2 separate regions of the Homo sapiens genome follow, and region 1 is linked to region 2. The links come from fine-mapping of genetic effects on plasma protein levels. Region 2 holds a variant in brackets. A gene starts in the other region. All regions are shown on their forward strands.

Region 1 (6,484 bases), not on the chromosome of region 2:
GAGTACAGTGCTGCGATCTCGGCTCACTGCAACCTCTGCCTCCCTGGTTCAAGTGATTCTCTTGCCTCAGCCTCCTGAGTAGCTGCGATTACAGGCGCCCACCACCACGCCTGACTGATTTTGTATTTTTAGTAGAGATTGGGTTTCACCATGTTGGCCAGGCTGGTCTCAAACTCCTGACCTCAGGTGATCCACCCGCCTCGACCTCCCAAAGTGCTAGGATTACAGGCATGAGCCTCCACGCCCGGCCTGAGGGCTCAAGTCTTTTTTTTTCTTTCTTTCTTTTTTTTGAGACGGAGTCTTGGTCTGTAGCCCAGGCTGGAGTGCAGTGGCGCGAACTCGACTCACTGCAAGCTCCACCTCCCGGGTTCACACCATTCTCCTGCCTCAGCCTCCAGAGTAGCTGGGACTACAGGCACCCGCCACCATGTCCAGCTAATTTTTTTGTATTTTTAGTAGAGACGAGGTGTATACCGTGTTAGCCAGGATGGTCTGGATCTCCTGACCTCGTGATCCGCTCGTCTCGGCCTCCCAAAGTGCTGGGATTACAGGCGTGAGCCACCGCGCCCGGCCAAGGGCTCTAGTCTTAACAGTGACCCCACACCCAAATGTCACCCAAGTCCATGCCCCTGACCCAATTATTCCCTAGGCCCAGTATGTCCCCACAGCCCGTTTTTGTTGTTGTTGTTGTTGTTGTTGTTGTTTTTGAGATAGAGTCTTGCTCTGTCGTCCAAGCTGGAATGCAGTGGTGCAATCCAGACTCACTGCACCCTCCACCTCCCAGTTCAAGTGATTCTCGTTCCTTAGCCTCCTGAGTAGCTGAAATTACAGGTGCCTGCCACCATGCCTGCCTATTTTTTGCATTTTTAGTAGAGACAGAGTTTCGGCATGTTAGCCAGGCTGGTCTCAAACTTCTGGCCTCAAGTGATACTCCTGCTGCGGCCTCCCAAAGTGCTGGGATTACATGCATGAGCCACTGTGCTGGCTTCTTACAGCCCTTTTATTGTCCTGAGTGCAGTCCCCAGCTCTTGGGTGCTCTTACTCCCTCCTGCCTGGCCTCCACTGGCTGGCTGAAGGTCCTTGGGGTCTGGCATTGGGGCGGGGGGATCCTCTGACTATTCCCTCTCACTAAGTTCCCTACCCCAGGGCCCCATTGTGCACACTGACCACAGTGATCTGGTTCTGGAGGAGGAAGGGACTCTGGAGACCAAGGTGAGTGTTGAGAGGGGTGGGGCTCCCTTCACTGTTGGGAGAGGCGGGGCTCCCTTCATTGTGTTTCCGTCTCTCTCCCACGCCTGTCCCCTCCTTTTTCCTTCTGTTGTCCTCAGAGTTGGGACTCAGCTCCCCACCCCACTCCTCCTGCCCCCTGGGCCATCTCACTCAGCTCCCAGCCTCAGTTTGCCTGTCTGCAGACTCTTCCCACACATCTGTCCCAGCCCTAGCCTCCATCTGGAGCCCCAGACCAGGGCTCACCCTGCCTGTGCTCTCCTCATCACGGTCAAGCCCCCTTTCAGCCACCAGGTCCTACACTGGCCCCACATCTCCCCAGACTGGTTCTTCCTCTGGGGTCCTACCTCAGGACAGCCACATTGACTCCAGGCCATCCCCAGGCCAGAGCACTTCTCTCTCTCTCTCTCTCCTGCGTACCTAGCACATGCCATTCTCTCTCTTCTTTTTTTTTTTTTTTTTTTTGAGACGGAGTCTCATTCTGTTGCCCAGGCTGGAGTGCAGTGGTGCAATCTCAGCTCACTGCAACCTCTGCCTCCTGGGTTCAAGCCATTCTCCTGCCTCAGGCTCCCTAATAGCTGGCTAATTTTTCTTGTATTTTTAGTAGAGATGGAGTTTCACCATGTTGGCCAGGCTGATCTGGAACTCCTGACCTCAAGTGATCCGCTCGCCCCAGCCTCCCAAAGTGCTGGGATTACAGGCGTGAGCCACTGTGCCCAGCCGACATGCCATTCTCTTGGCCTGAAACACTCCTACCTTCCTTCCCATGTCTACCTAATTCCTTCCTTTAGTCCTCCAGTCTCAGCTCAGACATTTCTTGTTCTAGGAAGCCCATGCTTCCGTCATGACAGCTCGATCATTTTGCCTGTGTTCCACCCATCACAGCCATGACCACTCTGATCTGGGCTTCCTTATCCCACCCACTATGCTGAGGGCTCTACCATCACAGCCCCTGTCATTGCCTATGCCTTTCCCAGGCACAGCCCTGACCCCTCTGGGTACTGTCTCATGATCTGTCATTTTTCCTTTGGTGTGGGATTCTGTGAGGACAGGGTCCAGTTCTATCCTAGTGACATGCCTTGTAGCAGCAACACAGGGTGTGACACTGAATCAAAGCCTAGAGGCTGTTGGGCAGGTGAGTGTCTCTCTCCTGTTCCCTCTGCACCTTCCACACCGACACCCCTCAGCAGGCCTATATCCCTCCGTCTCTACCTTTCTCTGCCTATGTCCTATCCATTTGCCTCTTATCACTGTTCCTCTGTCTCACTTTCTCTCTCTCCCAGTCCATGTGTGTCTCTGTGTCTCTGCCCACTCCTGTCTCTTTTTGTCTCTCTCAAGGTCTGGTCTATTTCAGTGTGTCTCTCCATCAGTGACCCTCATCCCCCCTGCACGCTCACAGACTTTACTGAGTCCCATTTGTCCCCTCAGGACCCAACCAACGGTTACTACAAGGTCCGAGGAGTCAGTGTGAGCCTGAGCCTTGGCGAAGCCCCTGGAGGAGGTCTCTTCCTGCCACCACCCTCCCCCCTTGGGCCCCCAGGGACCCCTACCTTCTATGACTTCAACCCACACCTGGGCATGGTCCCCCCCTGCAGACTTTACAGAGCCAGGGCAGGCTATCTCACCACACCCCACCCTCGAGCTTTCACCAGCTACATCAAACCCACATCCTTTGGGCCCCCAGATCTGGCCCCCGGGACTCCCCCCTTCCCATATGCTGCCTTCCCCACACCTAGCCACCCGCGTCTCCAGACTCACGTGTGACATCTTTCCAATGGAAGAGTCCTGGGATCTCCAACTTGCCATAATGGATTGTTCTGATTTCTGAGGAGCCAGGACAAGTTGGCGACCTTACTCCTCCAAAACTGAACACAAGGGGAGGGAAAGATCATTACATTTGTCAGGAGCATTTGTATACAGTCAGCTCAGCCAAAGGAGATGCCCCAAGTGGGAGCAACATGGCCACCCAATATGCCCACCTATTCCCCGGTGTAAAAGAGATTCAAGATGGCAGGTAGGCCCTTTGAGGAGAGATGGGGACAGGGCAGTGGGTGTTGGGAGTTTGGGGCCGGGATGGAAGTTGTTTCTAGCCACTGAAAGAAGATATTTCAAGATGACCATCTGCATTGAGAGGAAAGGTAGCATAGGATAGATGAAGATGAAGAGCATACCAGGCCCCACCCTGGCTCTCCCTGAGGGGAACTTTGCTCGGCCAATGGAAATGCAGCCAAGATGGCCATATACTCCCTAGGAACCCAAGATGGCCACCATCTTGATTTTACTTTCCTTAAAGACTCAGAAAGACTTGGACCCAAGGAGTGGGGATACAGTGAGAATTACCACTGTTGGGGCAAAATATTGGGATAAAAATATTTATGTTTAATAATAAAAAAAAGTCAAAGAGGCAAGTGTGTCTTAGGGAGTCTACTGGCATTATCACTCTCCACCAAGGAAGGGGTCCCTTAGACCTGTCCCAAGGTCCCTCCTCTACCCTAGCCTATGAGGTGGCTGTAGGAGTAAAACTGTGAGCCACCTCTCAGCCTCTTGCTACCTGCAAAGCACTCTAGGCTCTTTTTTTTTTTTTCTTGAGACAAGATCTGGCTCTATGGCCCACATTGGAGTGCAGTGGCATGATCTCAGCCCACTGCTACCTCTGCATCCTGGGCTCAAGCCATCCTTCCACCTCAGCCTCCCAAGTAGCTGGGACTACAGGTGCATGCCACCACACCCAGCTAATTTTTGTATTTGTTTGTAGACAGGGTTTCACCATGTTGGCCAGGCTGGTCTCAAACTCCTGACCTCAAGTGATCCGCCCACCTAGGCCTCCCAATGTGCTGGGATTACAGGCATGAGCCACTGTGCCCAGCCATGGGCTCTTTTAATATACATCTTCACACACACACACACACACACACACACGCACACACACACATGAGTTGCAAACAGAAAAGACACACACATAGGCATGTATGCACAGACACACGCATAGATGTCCACACAGTTGCACACAAGTGACAGGGCTGCCCCAGGGGTCCTGGGGAAGACTGAATTCTAACTCTCATTAGAGGAGACAAACAAGTGAGCCCTGAAGTGGAGCAGGGAAGGGGAGACTATGGGTAGGAAAATGGCAATCCCCTGGTCCTTACAGCAAGCGTGGAGATCCAGACCCTAATCCTGAGGTGCTGCATCCACAGTGGGCATGGTGCTGGTGCCTGCTTGGATGATCCTTAAAGAAAGGTCCTGGGGGCTTTGGTTCATGGATCCTTGAGCTAGGAGTTAAAGGTCCAGGCCCCTGGGACCCTTGGGAAGCAGAGCAAGAAGAGTGAACTCCTGGGTCTGAAGGAGAATGGGCTGGGGGCTTGGTCTCTGGTCCTGAGAGAGAAGGTGCCCAGACTTCTGGATCTGAAAGAGGAAGGGACTAGGTCTCAACTGCTGCCTTCTTGACTGGGGACATTTTGGAGGCCTGTATTCCTGAGCCCTCAACAGAGGAATGTACTAGGGGATGGGGGTCTCTGATGCTTGCATCCTTGGAAAAGGACAAAACTGTGAGTGTCTGGGTCTAAAGAGGGTGAGAGTCCTGCGGGAGGACTCAAAATCCACAACGGGCGGAGCCCATAGCCGGACTCCTGGCTGGGCCCTTCATGGGGCGGGACGCCTGGAATCTCGAGGGGCGGGGGCCTGGCGCAGGCTCCCGCCCGGGGTTCCCGAGCTGCTCCACTCTGCGCGAAGCCGCCACGCTATTGTCCTGACCAGGAAGGCGGGGCCGGCGCGGGGCGGGGCTGGCGGCGCCGGCGCAGCCCGGGGGCGGCGGGAGGAGGAGGTGGCGGCGGTGGCGCTGGGAGCTCCTGTCACCGCTGGGGCCGGGCCGGGCGGGAGTGCAGGGGACGTGAGGGCGCAAGGGCCGGGACATGGGGCCCGCCAGCCCCGCTGCTCGCGGTCTAAGTCGCCGCCCGGGCCAGCCGCCGCTGCCGCTGCTGCTGCCACTATTGCTGCTGCTTCTGCGCGCGCAGCCCGCCATCGGGAGCCTGGCCGGTGGGAGCCCCGGCGCGGCCGAGGTGAGGCCGGGCCGGGTCCTGGGGGATGGGGGAAGGGGCGGGACCGGGTCTCTGGACGCCGGCGCGGACATGTCCAGGGCAGAAAGCGCGGTCTTTCCAGCCAGGTGGTCAGCCCCCAGGCGCCCCCAATCACATTTATGAACCCAGGGTTCCAGGCCCCAGCTCCCCCATCATGCGACGTCCCAGCCCCCTCCCATCTCGAGCATAGGAACTGGTCTATTCAGAGCCCCTGGTCCCAGAAGTCCAGCCCCCTCTCCAGACCCAGGTGACTCGGCCCCAACCCCCTCCCGCCTGGACATAGGACCCACCAAGCAGCGAGGCATTTAGATCCAATAATCCAGACCCCTTGTATTCTCTGGACCCATATGGAGGCCCTTGCAGCCTCCCAGGACCCAGGAGTCCAGTCCTTCAGTCACCACCCACCCCAACCAGATGTAGCTCTCCAGTCCTCAAGGACCTGGTGTCCAGGACTGTAGGCCCCTGAAGCCAGGCCTTGTCAGCTTTGCATCCTGCAACGGGAGCCTGAGCAAGGGATGGAGGGAGGAGGGGCCAGAACTCCTGGGTTCTGGCCTCCTCCTCCGCGATTCAGGTTTAACCCCTTCGGGCTCCAGAGCGGCTGCGCTGGGGTGGGGGCGGAGTCTGTCTCCGCGGCAACAAGGCAGAAAGAATCCCGGGGGACCCAGGTCGCCATAGCAACGGGAGCGCTGGGGCGCCCCCGCCCTACGGGAGCTGTTTCCCAGGGAACGGTGCCTCCATGGAGGCGGTGTGCGGTGCTTGGGGGAGGGGGCTGGTGCTGGGGGTCTCGGTCCTAGGGAGCAAAGAACCAGGGGACCCTCATGCCAACGCCCCCCGAGCCCTCACTGTCCTTTCCACTTCCATCCAGGCCCCGGGGTCGGCCCAGGTGGCTGGACTATGCGGGCGCCTAACCCTTCACCGGGACCTGCGCACCGGCCGCTGGGAACCAGACCCACAGCGCTCTCGACGCTGTCTCCGGGACCCGCAGCGCGTGCTGGAGTACTGCAGACAGGTGGGCGGGGCCGAACGGGAGAGGCGGGGCCGCCCATAGAAAGCTAGACTTGAAAAAGGCGTGGTCCAGGGTGCTGCGCGATCTAAGGCGTGGAGGCTGGGGGGCGTGGCCAATAAAGAGGCGCAACTATGCTAGGGGCAGGGGACCTGTTTTGAGATACTAAGTCAGGAAAAGG
Region 2 (8,000 bases):
AAATAAGGAAAAATAAAAAAGAAAAGAAAGAAAGTCCATAAATTGAGACTCCTAGAGATACTAAATGGTAGAATGGGAATTTGAATTTAAATTTATAAGATGTTCACTCTCGGAGATCATAGGTCATTGTTGTCCTCCTCCTTTTCATGACAGGAACTAGCAATGAAGAGCTCTGACTATGTGCTAGGTACTACTCTGAGAACCTAACATTTGTATCTCCTTATTAACTCTATTACTGCCCCATCCTACAGATGAGAAAATTGAGGCACAGGAAGTTTAAGTTGGCCAAGATCACACAGCCAGTAAGGGGCAGACATTGAAAGGTCATTTTGCCTGCCTTATCCCCAGCCTCCAGGCAGTGGCAGAGTTAGCTCATTTTGGACAAACAGCTCTCCCAGACCAGACATTGTAAGCTATACTCAGGAATCATAGGAAAGATTATGATAGAATAATATATAGTTACAAAGAAAAGAAAGAAAATCCAATGGGAGAATATTTACTGTTTTCTATATTAAAGTGTTTAATGTTTATGTTTTTAGAGGAATATTGTTTATTATAGCAATTTAGAAAACAAAATGAGAAAAAAAATCACCAAAGATTCTACCTCCAGTTATTTTTGTGTATTTCCTTCCATTTTTCCCCCCATGTCTGTTTATATAATTGAAACTATTATTCATGCAAAGAGGTATTCTGATTTTCTCAGTTATTTTTATTTATTTTTAATTTTGTAAATAAACTTTTTTCTTCTGAGACAGTCTCGCTGTGTCACCCAGGCTGAAGTGCAGCCGTGCAATCTTGGCTCACTGTGACCTCCCAGTCTCAAGCAATCTTCCTGCCTCAGCCTCCTAAGTAGCTGGGACTGCAGATGTGTGCTACCACATCCAGCTAATTTTTAAAATCTTTTTTCTCTTTTTTGGTAGAAATGGGAGTCTCTCTATGTTGCCCAGCCTGTATTGAACTCCTGGGCTCAAGTGATCCTCCCACCTCAGTCTCCCAAAGTGCTGGGATTTCAGGCATGAGCTACCACACCCAACCTAATTTTTATTTTTATTTTATTAAAAAAAAAAGTTTTTGCCTACCCGCCTCTCACCCTCTCACTCATTTTTAAGTATAGGTTTTTCTACAATGCCACATTGTCTTTTCCATAAAAAGTACTTTCGGCCGGGTGTGGTGGCTCACACCTGTAATCCCAGCACTTTGGGAGACTGAGGCGGGTGGATCACCTGAGGTCAGGAGTTCGAGACCAGCCTGGCCAACATGGTGAAACCCCATCCCTACTAAAAATACAAAAATTAGCTGGATATGATTGTGGGCACCTGTCATCCCAGCTACTCGGGAGGCTGAGGCAGGAGAATCGCTTGAACCTGGGAGGCAGAGGTTGCAGTGAGCCGAGATTGTGCCACTGCATCCCAGCCAGGGCAACAGAGCGAGACTTCATCTCAAAAAAAAAAAAAAAAAAGTACTTTTCTTCATTTGGTTAGTATTCTCTTATGAGTTGATGCCTTGTAATTTATCTGAATGTTTTCCATTATTTTGTGGTGAGCTTTAAAACTACCCTTCCTGACTTTCAAGAATCCTAGACATGCTCCTTCTTGCTAGGTAATTATTAGTTGCACTCATTAGAATAAAGTATATGCTTGGAGTGGGGAGGAGATGAACTTTTTGAAGGGCGGTGAAGTATTTCTCACCACCAGGCCTTTGTCTTTGCTAAACTGAGGAAGGAAGATTTTATTTCATTAGCTAACAAAGAACCTCCTATATAGGCCGGGCATGGTGGCTCACGCCTGTAATCCTCACATTTTCAGAGGCCAAGGTGGGTGGATTGCCTGAGCTCAGGAGTTTGAGACCAGCTTGGGCAACATGGCAAAACCCCATCTCTACTAAAAATACTAAAAATTAGCTGGGCGTGGTGGTGAGTGCCTGTAATCCCAGTTACTCCAGAGGGTGAGGCAGAAAAATTGCTTGAACCCGGGAGGTGGAGGTTGCCATGAGCCGAGATCGTGACAGTGCACTCCAGCCTGGGCGACACAGCAAGACTCTCTCTCAATAAAATAAAATAAAATAAATACATAAATAAATCTCCTATATAACCTCATAATATCAGATTTGGAGCCTTTTCCATAGAAATGAAATTCAGAAGAAGCTGAGACTCAGATATTCCAAGCTGCCTGGTGCTCTGTGAATAGAGGAGACTTGTTCTTGTGAAATCTGAGTGCAAAGACACAGGACAAATTGTTATCTACTTTTCATTCCTAAGGATACTGTATGGCCCTAAAACACAAGAACTAGAATTCTGTGATACCACGGGTACTCCACAGTGTGTTCCTTCCCCTTTCTGAACCTGATTTGACTCATCTCTATGAAAAGATGTGGGCTTTGGGGTCAGATGTGGGTTGGAATCCTAGCGCCTGTGTGGCTGCAATTTTCTTTTGTGTAAAATTGAGATAATAGTACAAAAGTAACAACAGTTAATATTATCAAGTGCTTACTGTGTGCCTGGCACTGTGTTAAATTCTCTAAGTGTATTTTCTCATTTAATTTTTGTGATAGGCTTATGACACTATTAGTATCTTCATATTACAGTGAGGGTTCAGAGAAGTTAAGGTTCCATAACTAGTCAGCAGACCTGGGACTTCACTCCAGGCAGCTGATTCCAAAGCCTATTCTAACTTTAAACTGCTACTTTTTGGAGTGTTGTAAGAAGGACAATTTATATAAAATGTTGGCACATAGTGGGTGCTGCTGTTATATGAATGGGCACAAAATCTGTCTACATTTTGCCTTTTACCAAATTTAGAATCTATTTAGTTAAAACCTTCTTAGGGCGGGTGGGGTGCAGTTGCTCATTCCTGTAATCTCAGCACACTGGGAGGCCAAGGCAGGAGGACTGCTTGAGCCCAGGTGTTTGAGACCAGCCTGGGCACATAGTGAGACCCCCATCTCTCCAAAAAACAAACAAACAAACAAAAACAAAACAAAACTAGCTGGGCGTTGTGGTGCCCCTGTATTCCCAGCTACTCAAGAGGCTGGGGTGGGAGAATGGCTTGAGCCCAGGAGTTCAAGGTTGCAGTGAGCTATGATCACAGTACTGCACTCCAGCTTGGGCAGCCGACTGAGACCCTGTCTCGAAAAAAAAATAAAAATAAAAACTTCTTAGGACAGAGTGATTAGAAGCTGTGTAGTAGATACTTAGTAACAATGTGGGTTCCTCGGGCAGGTTATCCTACGC[G/A]GAGAGCCAGGTACCAATGGGTGCGCTGCAATCCAGACAGTAATTCTGCAAACTGCCTTGAAGAAAAAGGACCAATGTTCGAACTACTTCCAGGTGAATCCAACAAGATCCCCCGTCTGAGGACTGACCTTTTTCCGTAAGTGGACTTTTCTCTAATTAATTAATTAATTACTTATTTATTTGAGACGGAGTTTCACTTTTCTTGCCCAGGCTGGAGTGCAATGGCGCAATCTTAGCTCACTGCAACCTCCGCCTCCTGGGTTCAAGCGATTCTCCTGCTTCAGCCTCTGGAGCAGCTGGGATTTCAGGCGCCTGCCACCATGCCCAGCTAATTTTTTTTTTTTTTTTTGAGACGGAGTCTCAGTCTGTCGCTCAGGCTGGAGTGCAGTGGCGCAATCTCGGCTCACTGCAAGCTCCACCTCCTGGGTTCACGCCATTCTCCCGCCTCAGCCTCCCGAGTAGCTGGGACTACAGGCACCCGCCACCACGCCCGGCTAATTTTTTTGTATTTTTAGTAGAGACGGGGTTTCACCTTATTAGCCAGGATGGTCTCGATCTCCTGACCTAGTGATCCGCCCGCCTTGACCTCCCAAAATGCTGGGATTACAGGCGTGAGCCACTGCGCCTGGCCTAATTTTTTGTATTATTAGTAGAGACGGGCTTTCATCATCTTGGCCAGGCTGGTCTCAAACTCCTGACCTCAGGTGATCCACCCACCTTGGCCTCCCAAAGTGTTGGGATTACAAGCATGAGCCACTGTACCCGGCCTTTTCTCTAATTTTAAAGTGTCTGTAATTTCACAACCTCTTGGCACAGATGTGGGAGTGTTTTTCTTCAAGCTGTCCAGAGTGTTTTGCTTCGAGCTCTTGCTTTGGTAGTTTGGCTCTTACTCTGCAGTACATGGTAAAAGTGTACTGTATATACTGGCATATGACATGTGCGAGTATACATGATTCACCTATGTTTTTGAAATTTTTTTTGTGGATGGTAGAGAGGAGCATTGAGGACTTTTCATCAACAGGTATTGAAAATGATTGAACATTGTTTTATTTGTGTAAACAGAACACACTATATATAAAAATCCAATAATTAACTGAATGGATAAGCAAAATGTGGTATAAGCATACAAAGGAATATTATTGGGTCATAAAAAGAATGAAGTACTGATACATGCTACAACATAGATAAACCTTGGAAACATTATGCAGAGTGAAGGAAGGCCAGACACCAAAAGCCACATATTGTATGATTCCATTTAGATGAAATGTCCAGAATAGGCAAATCCCTAGAGGCAGAAAGTAGATTAGTGGGTTACAGGGGCTGGGGAAAGGGAGGAATAAGGAGTGACTGCTAATGGGTATGAGGGTTTTTTTTGGAGGAGGTGATTAAAATGTTCTTCTGCCAGGTGTGGTGGCTCATGCCTGTAATCCCAGCACTTTGGGAGGCCGAGGCGGGAGGATTGTTTGAGCCCAGGAGTTTGAGGCCAGCCTGGGCAACATAGTGAGACCCTATCTCTATTTCAAATACATTTTTTATATTAAAAAAATGTTCTTCAAGTAGTTGGTAATTATTTTTAAAAATGGCCAGGTGCAGAGGCTCATGCCTGTAATCCCAGCACCTTGGGAGGCTGAGGTGGGAGGATCCCTTGAGCCCAGGAGGTTTGGGACCAGCCTGGGCCATACAGCAAGACCCTGTCTCTACAAAAAATACAAAAATTAGCTAGGCATAGTGATGTGCACCTGTGGTCCCAGCTACTCGGGAGGCTGAGGTAGGAGAATCTCTTGAGCCTATGTTGAGCCTGCAGTGAACCCTATTTATGCCATTGCACTCCAGCCTAGGCAACAGAGTAAGACTCTGTCTCAAAAAAAGAAAAAAAAAATTAGGGAAAGGAAGAATAATTAGCCAAGACTTGTAAAACAAAAATCAAATCTCTTCTTTTGATCACATAAAACTTGCTTTAAACTTGCAAAAAAGACCTGATATAAATTCATAAGTAACAAAAAATTGAATTATATTAGAAACCATTAATTCAATGAATACTAAAGCTATGTAGGATGTAGCAAAATATACATATTAAGAAAAGGATTATCATAAAAGTTTTAATCTCCAGGCTCAAACCTAGAAAATCACTCTCCTCAAAGCCAGGGTTAATCATCATGCTCCAAACCAGGTACATTTCACATCACTTTGGGATCCTGGCAACTTTCTCTTTTGTTTTTTTTTTTTTTTGAGACAGGGTCTCCTCTGTCACCCAGGATGGAGTGCAGTGGTGTGATCATAGCTCACTGCAGCCTCGAACTCCTCAAGTGATCTTCCTGCCTCAGCCTCCCAAGTAGCGGGACCACAGGCACACAGCACCATGCCCATCTAATTAAAAAAATTTTTTTTTGTAGAGACAGGGGTCTCTGTACATTTCCCAGGCTGGTCATGTACTCCTAAACTCAAGCAGTCCTCCCACCTCAGCCTCCCAAAGTGCCGGAATTACAGTCATGAGCCACCATTCCCAGCGCTGGTGACTTTCTCCATCACTGGTGACTTTCTCCATCACTGGTATTCACTGCATTAGTGATGACATCATTACAATCTTCAATATGCAACTTTGTAGTCCTACTCTTGCATTCTTACTTTAAAGCCTCAGCATTAAGTTTGAATGTAATATTACAGCATCCTTCATTACTTTAAATCATTGGTTTCAATAGTAATTCATTTAAATCTAAAATGTTAGGCTGCAGTGGCTCATGCCTGTAATCCCCCCAGTTTGGGAGACTGAGGTGGGAGAATCACTTGAGGCCAAGAATTTGAGACCAGCCTGGGCAACACGGCAAGACCCCATCTCTAAAAATTAGTGGCCCGGCGCTGTGCCTCACGCCTGTAATCCCAACACTTTGGGAGGCCGAGGCGGATAGCTTGAGGTCAGGAGTTCAAGATCAGCCTGGCCAACATGGCGGAAACCCATTTCTACTAAAAATACAAAAATTAGCTGGGCATGGTGGCACGCCTGTAATCCCAGCTATTGAGAGGCCGAGGCAGGCAGACTGGGAGGCCAAGGCAGGCAGATTGCTTTGAGACCTGCCTGGGTAACATGGAGAAATCCTGTCTCTACAGAAAAATACAAAAATTAGCCAAGCATGGAGAAACCTCGTCTCTATAGAAAGACACAAAAACTAGCCATGCATGCCTGTGGTCCAGCTACTCGAAAGGCTGAGGTGGGAGGATTGCTTGATCCTGAGAGGTCAAGGCTGAAGTGAGCCATGGTGTGGCACTGCACTCCAGCCAGGGTGACAGACTAAAACCTTGTCTCAAAATAAATAAACACATTTAAAATAAATAAATACAATTAAAACTAAAATTAAAAAATAAAATAAAATGTTAAGAGAATAGCTCAAATTCTCCAAAAGAACTCTTGCACACCATTCCTCCTCTTCTCAAATCTCTATTTTCCTTCCCCAAAGCCAGTAACTGCTTCTCACCCTGACCCTGTGCTTTCTTTCCCGTCATTGCGAAAGAATGGTCCTTGCTTCTGTGCTGATCCCAAACCCTTTTGCCCTCAGATCCTCCTGTCCTTCCCTGGCCCTGCTCTGTATTGGCTGTGGGGTGGGGGTGGCGGTGGAACTGACCCCTGGCGTCTGCATTTCTCAGGCTCCCAGGGCTGTGGCTGACTTTGGCCAATGGGAGGCAAGGACGGGAGACTGAGAGCTTGGGAGGAAGGGAGAGAGGTATGTTTCTTCTCCTTACTCCCTGCCTGGGATGGCACCTTGGGCAGGACTCTGTTTTGCCCATGGCCTCAGCTCCCACCAGATGCCTCTAGTCCCTGGGCTCAGGAAATAGACAACCTCCTTCCACTATCGCTGTAGCCCAAGGAGGGAAGTATTTTTTTCTTTCTTTCTTTCTTTTTTTTTTTTTTTTTACAGAGTCTCACTCTTGTTGCCCAGGCTGGAGTGCAGTGGTGCGATCTCAGCTCACTGCCACCTCTGCCTCCCGGGTTCAAGTGATTCTCCTGCCTCAGCCTCCAGGGTGTGCCACTATGCCCAGCTAATTTTTGTATTTTTGGTAGAGACGGGGTTTTGCCATGTTGACCAGGCTGGTCTTGAACTTCTGACCCCAAATGATCTGCCTGCCTCGTCCTCCCAAAGTGCTGGGATTACAGGCATGAGCCACTGTGCCTGGCCGAAGGAAATATTTTCTTGCTATTGCTAATCTCTGGGTTACCTCGCTATCCCCCATTTAGCTTCACTTCTCCTCCATCACCTGTATGAGGAATTCCCTCTGTGTTAAATATCTGGAGAAGTTTCCTGATTGGACCCTGGCTGTTGCAGCTTCCAAGGCCACCTCTCTTTGTGGCTGGTATCCTTTTCCCATGCATCTTCTCCAGGACTTCCATTCTGCAGTTATCTCTCTGAACTCAGTGTCTTCTTCCCATCAGTATAGGGGTGGACTTTAGTATCTCCTATGTTTAGGCAACATCTCTCCTTTGACTCTGCGTCTTCTCCAGTGGTTGCCCTTCTCTGCTCCTCTTCACAATAACACCTCCTGAAAGGGCCACCCATGCCTGCCCCCTCCTTTCCTCACCCCCTCTGTGGCTGGACTTCTGTTCCTACACTCCACCCTGGTTGACAAAGTCACTGATTACTTCTCTATTTTCAGCTTACTTGATCCTTAATTGCCTTCAAAAACAGCTAACTGGGCCATGCATGTAATCCCAGCACTTCGGGAGGCCAAGGCAGGAGGATCACTTGAGCCCAGGAGTTCAGGACCAGCCTGCCTGGGCAAC

Direction of the effects. Alleles are on the strand shown, and positions count from the first base shown. The strength of an association depends on the size of the effect and on how common the allele is.
For the plasma level of the protein whose gene starts at base 5,073 in region 1, allele G in region 2 goes with a higher level than allele A (moderate association).

The links. PIP is the chance, under the fine-mapping model, that this variant and not a neighbour inherited with it causes the effect. The UK Biobank Pharma Proteomics Project read protein levels with antibody pairs (Olink). The fine-mapping took linkage between variants from a reference panel, not from the people measured, so its PIPs are less certain.
Region 1: APLP1 starts here. The variant in region 2 is fine-mapped to the plasma level of the APLP1 protein (UK Biobank, PIP above 0.99).

The regions. Positions count from the first base shown.
Region 1 is chr19:35,863,502-35,869,985 of GRCh38, forward strand. APLP1 (amyloid beta precursor like protein 1) reads left to right here and starts at 5,073. Exons shown (of 17, transcript NM_001024807.3): 1 at 5,073-5,282; 2 at 6,166-6,309. The coding sequence starts at 5,136. It overlaps KIRREL2 (kirre like nephrin family adhesion molecule 2), which reads left to right. Exons shown (of 15, transcript NM_199180.4): 14 at 1,147-1,212; 15 at 2,656-3,635. The coding sequence ends at 2,991. LOC107985317 (a long non-coding RNA gene) reads right to left here and starts at 5,856. Exons shown (of 4, transcript XR_001753932.2): 1 at 5,591-5,856; 2 at 4,374-4,629; 3 at 2,986-3,092. RefSeq lists silencers at 4,894-5,153, 5,244-5,313.
Region 2 is chr10:69,093,867-69,101,866 of GRCh38, forward strand. SRGN (serglycin) reads left to right here. Exons shown (of 3, transcript NM_002727.4): 2 at 3,218-3,365. Among named protein-coding and RNA genes, the nearest start is that of SRGN, 9.8 kb to the left of the region's middle. The variant G/A (reference allele first, on the strand shown) is at 3,230.